3 linked regions of the Homo sapiens genome follow. The protein of the gene in region 3 purifies or fractionates together with the protein of the main gene of each other region. This does not show direct contact. Each region holds a gene or a part of one and is shown on either strand. Other genes may lie near its edges.

Evidence for each region.
Region 1: the proteins of TSPAN3 (region 3) and FGFR2 purify together in Homo sapiens (affinity purification with mass spectrometry; 3 studies listed by BioGRID and IntAct, with this or other methods). This does not show direct contact.
Region 2: the proteins of TSPAN3 (region 3) and CD320 purify together in Homo sapiens (affinity purification with mass spectrometry; 3 studies listed by BioGRID and IntAct, with this or other methods). This does not show direct contact.

What each region holds. Positions count from the first base shown.
Region 1 is NC_000010.11:121,497,296-121,500,944, forward strand, and holds part of FGFR2 (fibroblast growth factor receptor 2 isoform 1 precursor), read right to left. Parts: coding exon 3,531-3,649; intron 1,311-3,530; coding exon 1,200-1,310; intron 1-1,199. UniProt on the Homo sapiens protein: Tyrosine-protein kinase that acts as a cell-surface receptor for fibroblast growth factors and plays an essential role in the regulation of cell proliferation, differentiation, migration and apoptosis, and in the regulation of embryonic development.
Region 2 is NC_000019.10:8,301,665-8,305,413, forward strand, and holds the end of CD320 (CD320 antigen isoform 1 precursor), read right to left. Parts: intron 3,493-3,749; coding exon 3,367-3,492; intron 2,425-3,366; coding exon 2,191-2,424; intron 1,317-2,190; coding exon 1,113-1,316; intron 942-1,112; coding exon 799-941; 3' UTR 463-798; downstream 1-462. UniProt on the Homo sapiens protein: Receptor for transcobalamin saturated with cobalamin (TCbl). Plays an important role in cobalamin uptake. Plasma membrane protein that is expressed on follicular dendritic cells (FDC) and mediates interaction with germinal center B cells.
Region 3 is NC_000015.10:77,061,110-77,064,758, forward strand, and holds part of TSPAN3 (tetraspanin-3), read right to left. Parts: intron 1-3,649. UniProt on the Homo sapiens protein: Regulates the proliferation and migration of oligodendrocytes, a process essential for normal myelination and repair.

The sequences.
Region 1 (3,649 bases), on a different chromosome or scaffold from region 3:
TCATGCTGTCACCTGCGCCCTCTTGGAAAGCAATGGATCCCTCCACTCTATCCTTTTGGTTCATTTTAACTATTCAATAAGTAATATATTATTTTTAATCACATAAATGAATAATAAAGCTCTTAGATCTTTGCAACATTTTTTACCCATACATTATCCTTTTGGAACCTGTTGGGCTTATAAAAACAAAACCAGATCATTCCTTTTCACAGCTGCATATACTGTATCGTATAAACACACCACACTTTATTTATCCATTCCCTTATATGCATAGGCATTTGCTTCCAGGTTTCAGCCATAACAAACAGTAGGCAATGAACATCTCTGTACATGTTCCCTTACACACGTGTGCAATAATTTCTCCATGGTATAGGCTCGGGGTTGGCAGACTACAGCCTGCAAGCCAAATCCTGCCTACCGCCTGTTTGGGTAATTAAATTTTATTGGCATGCAGCCAGGTCCATTCATTTCTGTACTTCTAGCACTGCTTTCTCACTACTATGGCAGACACGAGAAGTTGCGACAAAGACCATACGGCCCACAAAAGTCTAAAATATCTACGACCTCCCTTTACAGAAAAAGTTCACCAATTACTATATAGACCTACAAGAGAAATTGCTAAGTCAAAGATAGGCGTTTTCAAGTTTACTAATTACTTAGCAAATTGATTTCAAAGTGCCAGTAAACATTCAATGGAAGAAGCCAGGGTCTCTCTCCCCCAGGGAAAATAACGTATTCCTTCATACCGCTTTCTCCTCTTTTAAGCTATTCTTGGGAGCTCAGCCATCTGTGACCCACAGCAAGATGTGGATTCTTCAATCCCTGTTTTAAGGGAAGAACTTCTCAACCAAAACATAGGATCTTATTCTGACAAATCTCTCTTAGCACTTACAAAACAAAAACATAAGGAGGCTGCCTTTTCCAAAACCCCCTCCAGGTTATGACCTAGAAACAGCAGCGCCCTCTAGGCCCTCAAATCCAAAGTCACCTGCACCCTCCTTTCCACTGGCCCCCAGGTACGGGCACAGACCCTTCTTTGTGTTCATGGCTAGGAACATCTTCCAATGGGGATTTTAAAAAGAACTTTAAACATGCACACAGGGTGCTCTGGGAGCAGGATCTGGAAGCCCAGCCATTTCTAAAATGATTCAATCAAACTGCAGAGTATTTGGGCGAATGCAGTTTTTCCTCCTACTCACCATCCTGTGTGCAGGCTCCAAGAAGATTTATGATATTCTTGTGTTTCCCAATCATCTTCATCATCTCCATCTCTGACACCAGATCAGAAAGGTCTTTCTCTGTGGCATCATCTATGAACAGTAGGCATATTCACAAATCAGTTCATTTCCTCTAACTCATGGGCAGCTACTGTTAGTTGCCAAAGACTTAGTTGAAACAGCATGAAATTGAATTTCAGAATCAGAAAAGATTTTCCAAATCATCTCCCTCATTTTATCGAGGAAGGGACAAAGGCCTACACAGGGAACTGCCTCACTCTGTGTCAAAGAGCTCACTGGGGGGCCAATGGGGCCAAGAGTCAGGACGAGAGCAGGGGCTTCTGACACTAATGCCAATTCTTTCCTAGACCATGAGATAATCTCATCCTCTGCCATATCTAAGGCGTCTCAGAAAACCACACCAAACTTCATGGTGCCTGAAACCAGCGAGGAGACCGAGGGTAGGGCCATTTCAAATCACTACAGACTTGCTCCCGACCAAGCATTCTTAACCCAGCCCCTCGAGGCCCTTAGAGCGTTCCGAGGTGGGTTCAGACGGTTCCCCATAAACAGGGCCATAAACGTGTGTGCATGTGCATTCTGAGCAGGTAAAGGGCTGCGACTTCTAGTGGCTTCTCAGAGGGCACTGCAGTTCCCATCCTAAGAAAAGTTACATAAACTTCCGCTCTGTAATTTCAAGCAAGAATGGCACAGGTTCCACATACGCGGGCTCGCAGTTAGCTTCTCTTAGATTCTCCTAAGTGGCAAGACTTTCCCATGTGCCCTCCACCTCAAGCTAATTCAGTATGGAAAAATCTGGGTTTCCTTTAAAAAAAAAATGAAATATGGGCATGGATAAGAACCATGTTGCAAACAGTTTTTTAGCTTCACAAAAGGAAGATCAATACAAGTGACTGTGTGTGCAAAATTTACACTGATGTATGTGAAGGAGGGAGCCACGGGCCATGAGGAGGGAGGGAGACACAGCCGTGGGCTGTAAGAAAGGACACGCCACAATGGCTTGGGGACTAATATCCTTCTGTGTCCTTACAGGGAAGGCTGCCAGCCTGGGCATCACAAGAGAAAGAGAACTCCCAGACCTCCCTTTTTGCAATATCCCATGTAACTCTGAGCTCCATTAGCAAAACCAGAAGTTCCGCCAAAAGAGATGAGAAGCCTGGGTCCTCCCCACACCTGGCCCTGGTACGCAGCCAGGGGCTGCCTCAGTCAGTGGTGCCATGACACCTGGGGCAAGACAGCACAGTGTTCCTCCCCGGCATCAGGCTCCAAGGTGGGGAACATCTCAAAGCACTCTAGTTTTCCTTGGGAGTCACTCAGATAAACAGCCTTTTAAAAAACCCAAAAAACAAAATGCACATCTTGTTGACAAAGTCCAGCCTGCTACTTCCCCTTGGGAGGGATGTGATGACTATCCCATGAGAACCCACAAAAGAAAGACAAAGCCTAACTCCAGAGCGCCTGCGACATGCCCAGCACCATATCCCAAGGATGGGCCTCTCTGCCTGGAAACGTGGGAAACACTCGGCATGGGATCTTCTTTCCGAGATCCCTACAAGAGGATTTATAATGTGACAGTTCCCTATAACTCTTCTCATAAAAGAATACTGCAGGACGAATAAGTTAATGGTTAAAAGTTCTTTAAGTTCTTTGGACATGGGCATGAAGCAGGGTTGGAAGGTTAACGTAGAAGTGTTCACAGTCCCACAAACACAACACGACATTTACATCTCAGGGTAATTGTTTATGTGTCCCAGGAGGCTCTGCACCAGCCCTGATCCTGTTCACTCCTTCTCAGCTTCTAAGTGACTCTCCCAGACCAGTGTCATTTCTGCTTTGTTCCTCACGCAAAAGAGAAGGCTTTCTGCTCCCTTACGTCTCTTCGTTCCCTCCAAAAACACAAATTTTCTTGTACTTGTAAAGTTAAGGTTTAAGTCCCAAATCTAACACACCAACTCCTAGCTAATAAATTCAATTATATGTGAGTTGATAATTTCTAAGCACATAAAAATACAGAGAGAATGAAGAATTGTGGTCACGAAGAAGGAGTCAAAGAATAACTCTATGTAGGAGGCTACCGCTTTCTAACAAAACTGGCTTTTCTTTATAAGTACACACAGCTCAAGATAAATAGTCTGTCCGAGATGCTGATTTATACCGAAAACTTCTCAACCCCTAGGTCAACTATGTGCTCTCTGACCCCGTGCCATGATAGAGTTCACATGCCACAAAAGGAACTTTCTTGATAAGACTCTCCACCCAGCCCCTCCCCGAGCCTCCCGCCTCCCCGCTCACCTTTCAACATCTTCACGGCCACGGTGACCGCCTCCTTGGGCTTGTCTTTGTCAATTCCCACTGCTTCCGCCATGACCACTTGCCCAAAGCAACCTTCTCCCAGGGGCTTGCCCAGTGTC
Region 2 (3,749 bases), on a different chromosome or scaffold from region 3:
TATTGGCCAGGCTGGTCTCGAACTCCTGACCTCAGGTGATCCGCCCACCTCTCGGCCTCCCAAAGTGCTGGGATTACAGGTGTGAGCCACTGTGCCCGGCCAAAACGCAGTCTCTAAAAACATAATTAAAAAATAATTAAAACAGGGTGAGTCTGAGACCATCCCAGGAAACCTGGCTTCCACTGCACTGAGGAGGAAGCCACAGTGGGTGGGGGTCCCCAGACCTGGGAATGGGAAGGCACTGCCCAAGCTCTGCTCTTCTTCCAAGAATCCTGATGTTAACGCAGACTCCCCACCCCAGCCCTGCTGCCCCTGCTCCCAAAAAGCAAGCAGCACAGTAGCTGCACACAGGGCTGGGTGTCCATGTCCCACCTTCTATGGGCTGGGCTCTCATGGAGGAGGGGCTGCAGCAGCGACCCCAGGCTGCCCAGGCCAAGGGAGACAGAGACCCAGAGGCAGGCGGAGGATGTGAAGCAACTTTAATTGCCACCCTCAGACGGGGCAGCAGGAGTGTCTTAAGCACAGGGCCGTTCTACCCCCTGGGAGCTGCCTGGGGCCAGCCCCTCAGTTCTGGCTGTGGCAGGTTCCCCATCCTAGCTCCCCGGATCTCCATAGGGAGTGTCCAGGGACCCTCAATCTCCAGGGCCACTTCTGCAGGAGCTCGGGTTCGAGGTTCCACGTGGCCAGAAGAGCTCAGGTCTCTGAGGGCTGGTGTGCCCGGGTACCCATCCGCATCACTGCTCTCCTCCTGTCCGGCTACGCCCAGGGCTGAGTGACGGTGGTGGCAAGTGCTTGTCCTCAGGGCAGCGAGGTCTTCTGTTCTGACAGCAGCAGGGACTCCTTCATGGCCACCAGTAACCCCAGTGGGCGGAGGCGCTCCTGGGCTCGGAGCCAGGACAAAAGGAGGAGGGTGGCGGTGACCAGGCTTGCACTGAGCACCGCTGTGGGGAACAGATGGACAGAGGAGTAAGGAGGGGGAAGGCAAGAGCCCCCACACCCACCAAGCTCCATACACATGGGGATGGGAGTTCTGCAGCTCATCCCTCCCCACCCACCTCCCCTGAATCCCCGGAGCTCTAAGCCCCCAGCATGGGAGGGTAAGTCCCTCTTACCAGCAGCTGCAATAACCCCATAGGCAGTTGGGCTTCCAGACTGGTCTCCGGCAGAGGAGGATGTGGCATTCCCGACAGAGGGGACACTCTCCAGGGTCACAGGGGGCCCCATGGTTGTGGCATTCCTGAGAGAGGTGACACTCTCCAGGGTCACAGGGGGCCCCATGGTTGTGGCATCCCCTTCCGGGAGGATCTCATTGGTTCCTGCAATAAGCCCAGGCGTTCAGTAGTTGAGGAGAGAGCACTGAAGGCGTGAGGGGGCCAGATGCCCAGGGGAGCCCTTGGGGTTTATCCTCAACCAACCAGGCTGGGTGAAGCTGACTGCCCGTAATTATGTCTTTTTTTTTTTTTTTTTTTGGAGAGGGAGTCTGGCTCTGCCACCCAGGCTGGAGTGCAGTGGCGCAATATTGGCTCAGTGAAACCTCTGCCTCCTGAGTTCAAACAATTATCCTGTCTTAGCCTCCCGAGTAGCTGGGATTACAGGTGCACGCCACCACGCCTAGCTAACTTTTGTATTTTTAGTAGAGACAGGATTTCGCCATGTTGGCCAGACTGGTCTCGAACACCTCACCTCAGGTGATCTGCCTGCCTCGGCCTCCCAAAGTGCTAGGATTACAGGCGTTAGCCACCGTGCCCGGCCTTTTTTAAATTTTTTTGAGACAGAGTTTTGCTGTCACCCAGACTGGTGTGCAGTGGCCCAATCTCAGCTCACTGCAACCTCTGCCTCCCAGGTTCAAGCGGTTCTCCTGACTCAGCCTCCTGAGTAGCTCGGATTACAGGTGTGTGCCACCATGCCCAGCAAATTTTTTTGTACTTTTAGTAGAGACGGGGTTTCGCAGTGTTTGCCAGGCAGGTCTCGAAATCCTGACCTCAGATGATCCGCCCACCTCAGCCTCCCAAAGTGCTGGGATTACAGGCGTGAGCCACCGGGCCCGGCCCCTAATGATGTCTTGATTCCCCCACAGGGATGCAGGCACGGGCAAAGGCATGTGTCCACGCCCCCAGCCTGGCCACGCCCCAGCAGGCAGTGGGTGTCCCCATCTACCCACGAGTCCACCCCAGCCCCGCAGGTGCATACCACAGCCGAGCTCGTCGCTGGAGTCGGGACAGTCTGGGTGGCCGTCGCAGCGCCACGTGAGTGGAATGCAGTCATCGCTCAGCGTGCAACGGAGCTCGCCTGCTAGGCAGGCCAGGCGGCTGCAGTTGCGCAGTTTCTTGTCAGTTCCCCCAGAGCAGTCACTGACGCCGGTGCAGGGGCAGGGGAGGCCAGGGGGCGGTGGGCATTGCCCTTTCTGGGTACATGGCTCAATCCCTGGGGCACAGGGTTGGTCAGGTCCCAAATGCCCACCCAAGAAGGCCCAGGTACTCCCTGAAACCCCATCCCCTGCAAGCCCCACCCTCTAAGAACAGCTGAGCCCAAAAAAATGCTCCCTTCCTAAGGCTCCGCCCCCTGCAACTGTTAACTCCACTTTCTAAGGACAGGCCTCCCTGCAAGCTCTTCCCCTGAGACCCCACTAGCTCTACCTTCCTACAAGCCCACTTTATTCTATTTGTTTGTTTGTTTCTTTCTTTATTTTTTCTTTTGAGACGGGGTCTCCCTTTGCTGCCCAGGCTGCAGTGCAGTGGCGCAATCTCGACTCACTGAAACCTCTGCCTCCCAGGGTCAAGTGATTCTCCTGCCTTAGCCTCCTGACTAGCTGGGATTACAGGGGCCTGCCGCCACATCCAGCTAACTTTTGTATTTTTAGTAGAGATGGGGTTTCACTGTGTTGGCCAGGCTGGTCTCGAACGCCTGACCTCAAGTGATCCGCCTGCCTTGGCCTCCCAAAGTGCTGGGATTACATGTGTGAGCCACCGTACCTGGCTCCCTCCCTCTCTCTTTCCTTCCTTTCTTTCCTTTCTTTCATTTTTCTTTTTTTTTTCTTTTTCTTTTTTTTTCCTGAGACAGTCTTACTCTGTTGCCCAGGCTGGAGTGCACTGGCACAATCCTAGCTCACTGCAGCGGCAACCTCCCAGGATCAAGTGATCGATCCTCCCACCCTAGCCTCCCAAAGTGCTGGGATTGCAGGCGTGAGCCACTGCGCCCAGCCCAAGCCCATCTTAGACCCCGCTTCTTATGACCCACAGACCCAAGTCGCACCCATCCCTGCGGCCCTGCCTTTCCCACAAGCTCCACCTCCGCGTGCCTGGCCCCTGACAAACCACCCTCAGGCCCCGCCCCCTGTAAGCCCCGCCAAGGGGCGTGGCCACTCACTGCACTCCTCCTCATCGCTGCCATCGCTGCAGTCCAAGTCCCTGTCGCAGCGCCAGGTGAGGGGCACGCATAAGCCACTGGTGCGGCACTGGAACTTGGTGGGTGGGCACGAGCCTGAGCTGGGGCCTGCGAGATGGATGCAAATGAAGCCTGGGAAGCTGGAGGCTGGACCTTTCTCCAAGAGCACAGTAGTCACTGGCTGTGATCCGCAGGAGACAGGCGAAGTCCCGGGATATAGGAACCACACTGGCGGCTGCTTGTTACTGAGCCCCTAGTACGAGTGGGGTTCAGAGTGTAGCAGTTCCTGGGCTCAAGAGCCCCACTGGGCAGGTGCTACTGCACTCCCCAGGTTACAGAGAAAGGAACCAAGAGGAGGCCATACA
Region 3 (3,649 bases):
GCACAAATGTGAAATATCTTAAAGAGATTTCATTCTTATATGAGATTGCTTTTTCCATAGCTTAGAAACTAGTTTTTGGGGGGGTAATTTTCAAATATTCTATGAAAGAGACAAGTAGATAAAATGTTAAAATCTGGGCCAGGCGCAGTAGCTCACACCAGTAATCCCAGCACTTTGGGAGGCCAAGGCCGGCAGATCATCTGAGGTCATGAATTCGAGACCGGCCTGACCAACATGCAGAAACCCCGTCTCTACTAAAAATACAAAATTAGCCGGGCGTGGTGGCACATGCCTGTAATCCCAGCTACTCAGAAACGCTGAGGCAGGAGAATCGCTTGAACCTGGAAGGCAGAGGTTGCAGTGAGCCGAGATTGCGCCACTGCACTCCAGCCTGGGCAACAAGAGCAAAACTCAGTCTCAAAAAATTAAAAAAAAAAAAGTTAAAATCTGTAAAACTATTAAATTCCTTTTCATCAACCACGGTGTAACCTGCCATTGGAATGTGGCAATATTAAAAATGAAACAGATTTGCTACAAGTGGGGAGATAAAGTAGCTCTGTTGCCAAAAGTATACCTACATGGAGATTTAGAAATACAAAGGCGAAAGCATCCCACAGGACATTTTGGGCGAAGCTGAAGCAAAGAATAGAAGTGATTTTCTTGCAGTGGTATGTAGTAGCCATTGATGATGATTCCCATCTAGAACTGGCAAGAATCAAAACAATGTAAAGACAAGGCACCATCTGGACTTTATTCACCTAAAAGCACAGTGCCTGACAAATTCTTGCTTGCCTGTGTGAACTGCTCCCTTCGGAGTGATTTTTGCCAAAGAATCAATTAGTAAAGTAGAAGTGACTGGAGTGTTGAGAGAAAGGAAAAAAGTCAAGAAGTAAAAGACTGAGCAAAAAATGCTGTACTCTAGACTTTGTAAGAAAGCAGGTTTTAAAAGCAGAGGGAAAAAATAGGCAGGAATCCATCTTATGCATATATCTTTTTAACATTAAATCCAGAGTTTCCTGTACTGTCATATTATTTTTCATATACCTCTTTTCTCTCCTGGGAAGAATCGTTGGTAATTCCACACAGTGGATTTCTGAAAGCTTCCCCAAACTTCACCCTTATGCCATTACAAGTGTCTTAAAATCATCTTAAATCGTTTAGCATTCTACTTGCCATAATGTATATTCTCTAATTCAACCATGCTTTCACCTCTGACTTAATCTGATAGAACAGTTTACGTCACTAAACACAACTACTTCTTATGTAAGTCCACTACCTGAATATATCATTTACTCTCCTACCAACTCTCAAGGAAAAAAGGCCATTCCAAAGACTCCAAATCCTCTTTCAGAAATTAAAGCTACTCTTACCAAGAATTTCTGAAGCTATTAAATACTATCATTTTCTACCTAACAAACTGATCAGCAATAAAGTTAAGGAGTATTCAAAGATGTGTGAGGGTGCAGAGAGAAGGGCCCTCAGATGGGCGGAAGCACAAACTAATAGAGAATCATTTTTTTGGAAACAATCTGGCAATACATATCTGCCTCAGCATTGATGCCTTTATACCTACTTATTCCACTTCCAGGAATCTATCCTTTAGAAAGTTAGTCAGAAACACAGATTTGTGTAAAAGGTAATTCATCGAGATGTTGTAATGAAATTGTGGCTGCAAAAATGAAAATGAAAAAGCCCTGGTATTCAGAGGTGTGTCTGCATTCAGCCCTGAAATATTTTCTTAAAGCATCATTTAATAATATGCTTGTGGTGTGATAGGGGAAAAAACACATATATCACATATTGGAAACAAACCAAAATGTTGATATTGGTTGTCTCTGGGTGGTAGAATTATGGGTGATACCAGTTTGCTTTTTAAAATACTTTTAGTGTCTTCTTTAAAATATATTACTTGCATAATTAGAATAATAGTTAAAATTATGTCTGAAATTGAGGCTTTAATGTTCTCTCACCAATGAATTCATTCCTGGATGTGTCCTTAACCAACCAAAAACAGACACCTCTTCCATCCTAAATATTTTAGGCACCTCTGCCAATCTCTCCCACTTACCACTTTTCTCAGGTCTGTGTGGCTTTGACTCATCCTGTACATGTTTTCTGATTATCTAACACAATTCTTTCAATGTACATTATGTTCCTTTTCTCATAAATATTACTTTTCAAGGAGACAAGTTTTTTTTAAAGTCCTACTTAAATTGGGGTGTAAAGTTTTATGTGTGTTTTTTTAACTCACCACTATACTAATGAGAAAATTCTATTTTTTTTTTTTAAGACAGGGTCTTGCTATGTTGCCCAGGCTGGCCTCAGACTCCTTCCCTCAGGGGATCCTCTCATCTCAGTCTTACTTGTAGCTAGGATTACAGGCATGTGCCACCAAGCCTGGCTAAGAGTTTAAAGTTCTGACAAGCCACTTTTGCCATCAACATCACTATTATTATTGCCATTATTCTTAAATTAGAAATATTTTAATCCTTTTTACTGCTATTACTCTGATGATATGCCAAAGGTCATGCTCCTCAATTCTGCCTTATTTTCACCTTTTCTCTATTTGGTTTTTCATAATCATTATTAAACCAGCTTAACAAAGTTGTTCTATTTAATCCAATATCTACTGGCTGAACAACTCAAAATTTCAGGTGGCAAAGAAACTGGAGATTAACCAATTGCCATTGCCAAATTATTGTAACAGCATGGAAACTGGCTGTTTCCAGACAGTAGGGCTCCAGAGGTTATCTGAGAAGCCTGAAATTTAAATATGCATTTTCTTTGAGACCCTCTGTTACCCCACCCTACTCTAATTGTAAAAAGAGTCCATTACAACATCATAGGAGCCTGAGGTGCTTAAGCTTTGTAATGCTAGAGTTCATCCACACTTGGGTTATGTGTTTAATCAGTAGCAACAACAATGTAAGTTACAAAATGTCAACATTTATTCTAGAACCCCTTTAGTAGATTACAAACTACACATAAATGCAGATAATTTTTCTTACCTATTAACTCTGCCTAACTACTAAAAGGAAGACAGTGAGGAGAAGGAAGAGGAAGAAGATATGTCAATATTTTTCAATAAAGACTTACTTGAGACCAGCCATGAGTAAGATTTCTGGGGGAAAGGTGCATGTAGAAATTTAATTCGATGAAAAGTCTACCCTCTCTCCCCATTAGCTGTCAGACTACAGGGACTGTGTTTACTCTATTTCTCAAAAAAAGGTCAAGGGTAGATATTCAACACACATTTACTCATGAATGATTCTTAGTACACCCGTCTGGTCTAAGTACAAACTTTATGGAATACATTTTCTGAAAAAAAAAATCAAACAAGCCTAACCTGAATTGGATCTTATGGAATAAAATTCATTAAATTATTTCAAAGCATGATAAATATCCTAGAAAGCTAATAACCCATTCCCTAAACTGCAACTAGAGAGAGCGCCCCTGCTGATTCCAAGTTCTAAATGATTACTCAGGGCCACAAGGCTCTTGGTCAGTGGACAGGTGACTAAGAATGTAGTAAGAGTGGAAACATTCATTTTCTTAACTGTTGAAGACAAACTAAGACAGACACTTCCTATTATGTACTTGCTTCCTGACAAGTTAGATTTTCTTCTAGTGAATTGAAAACAAGCATGAA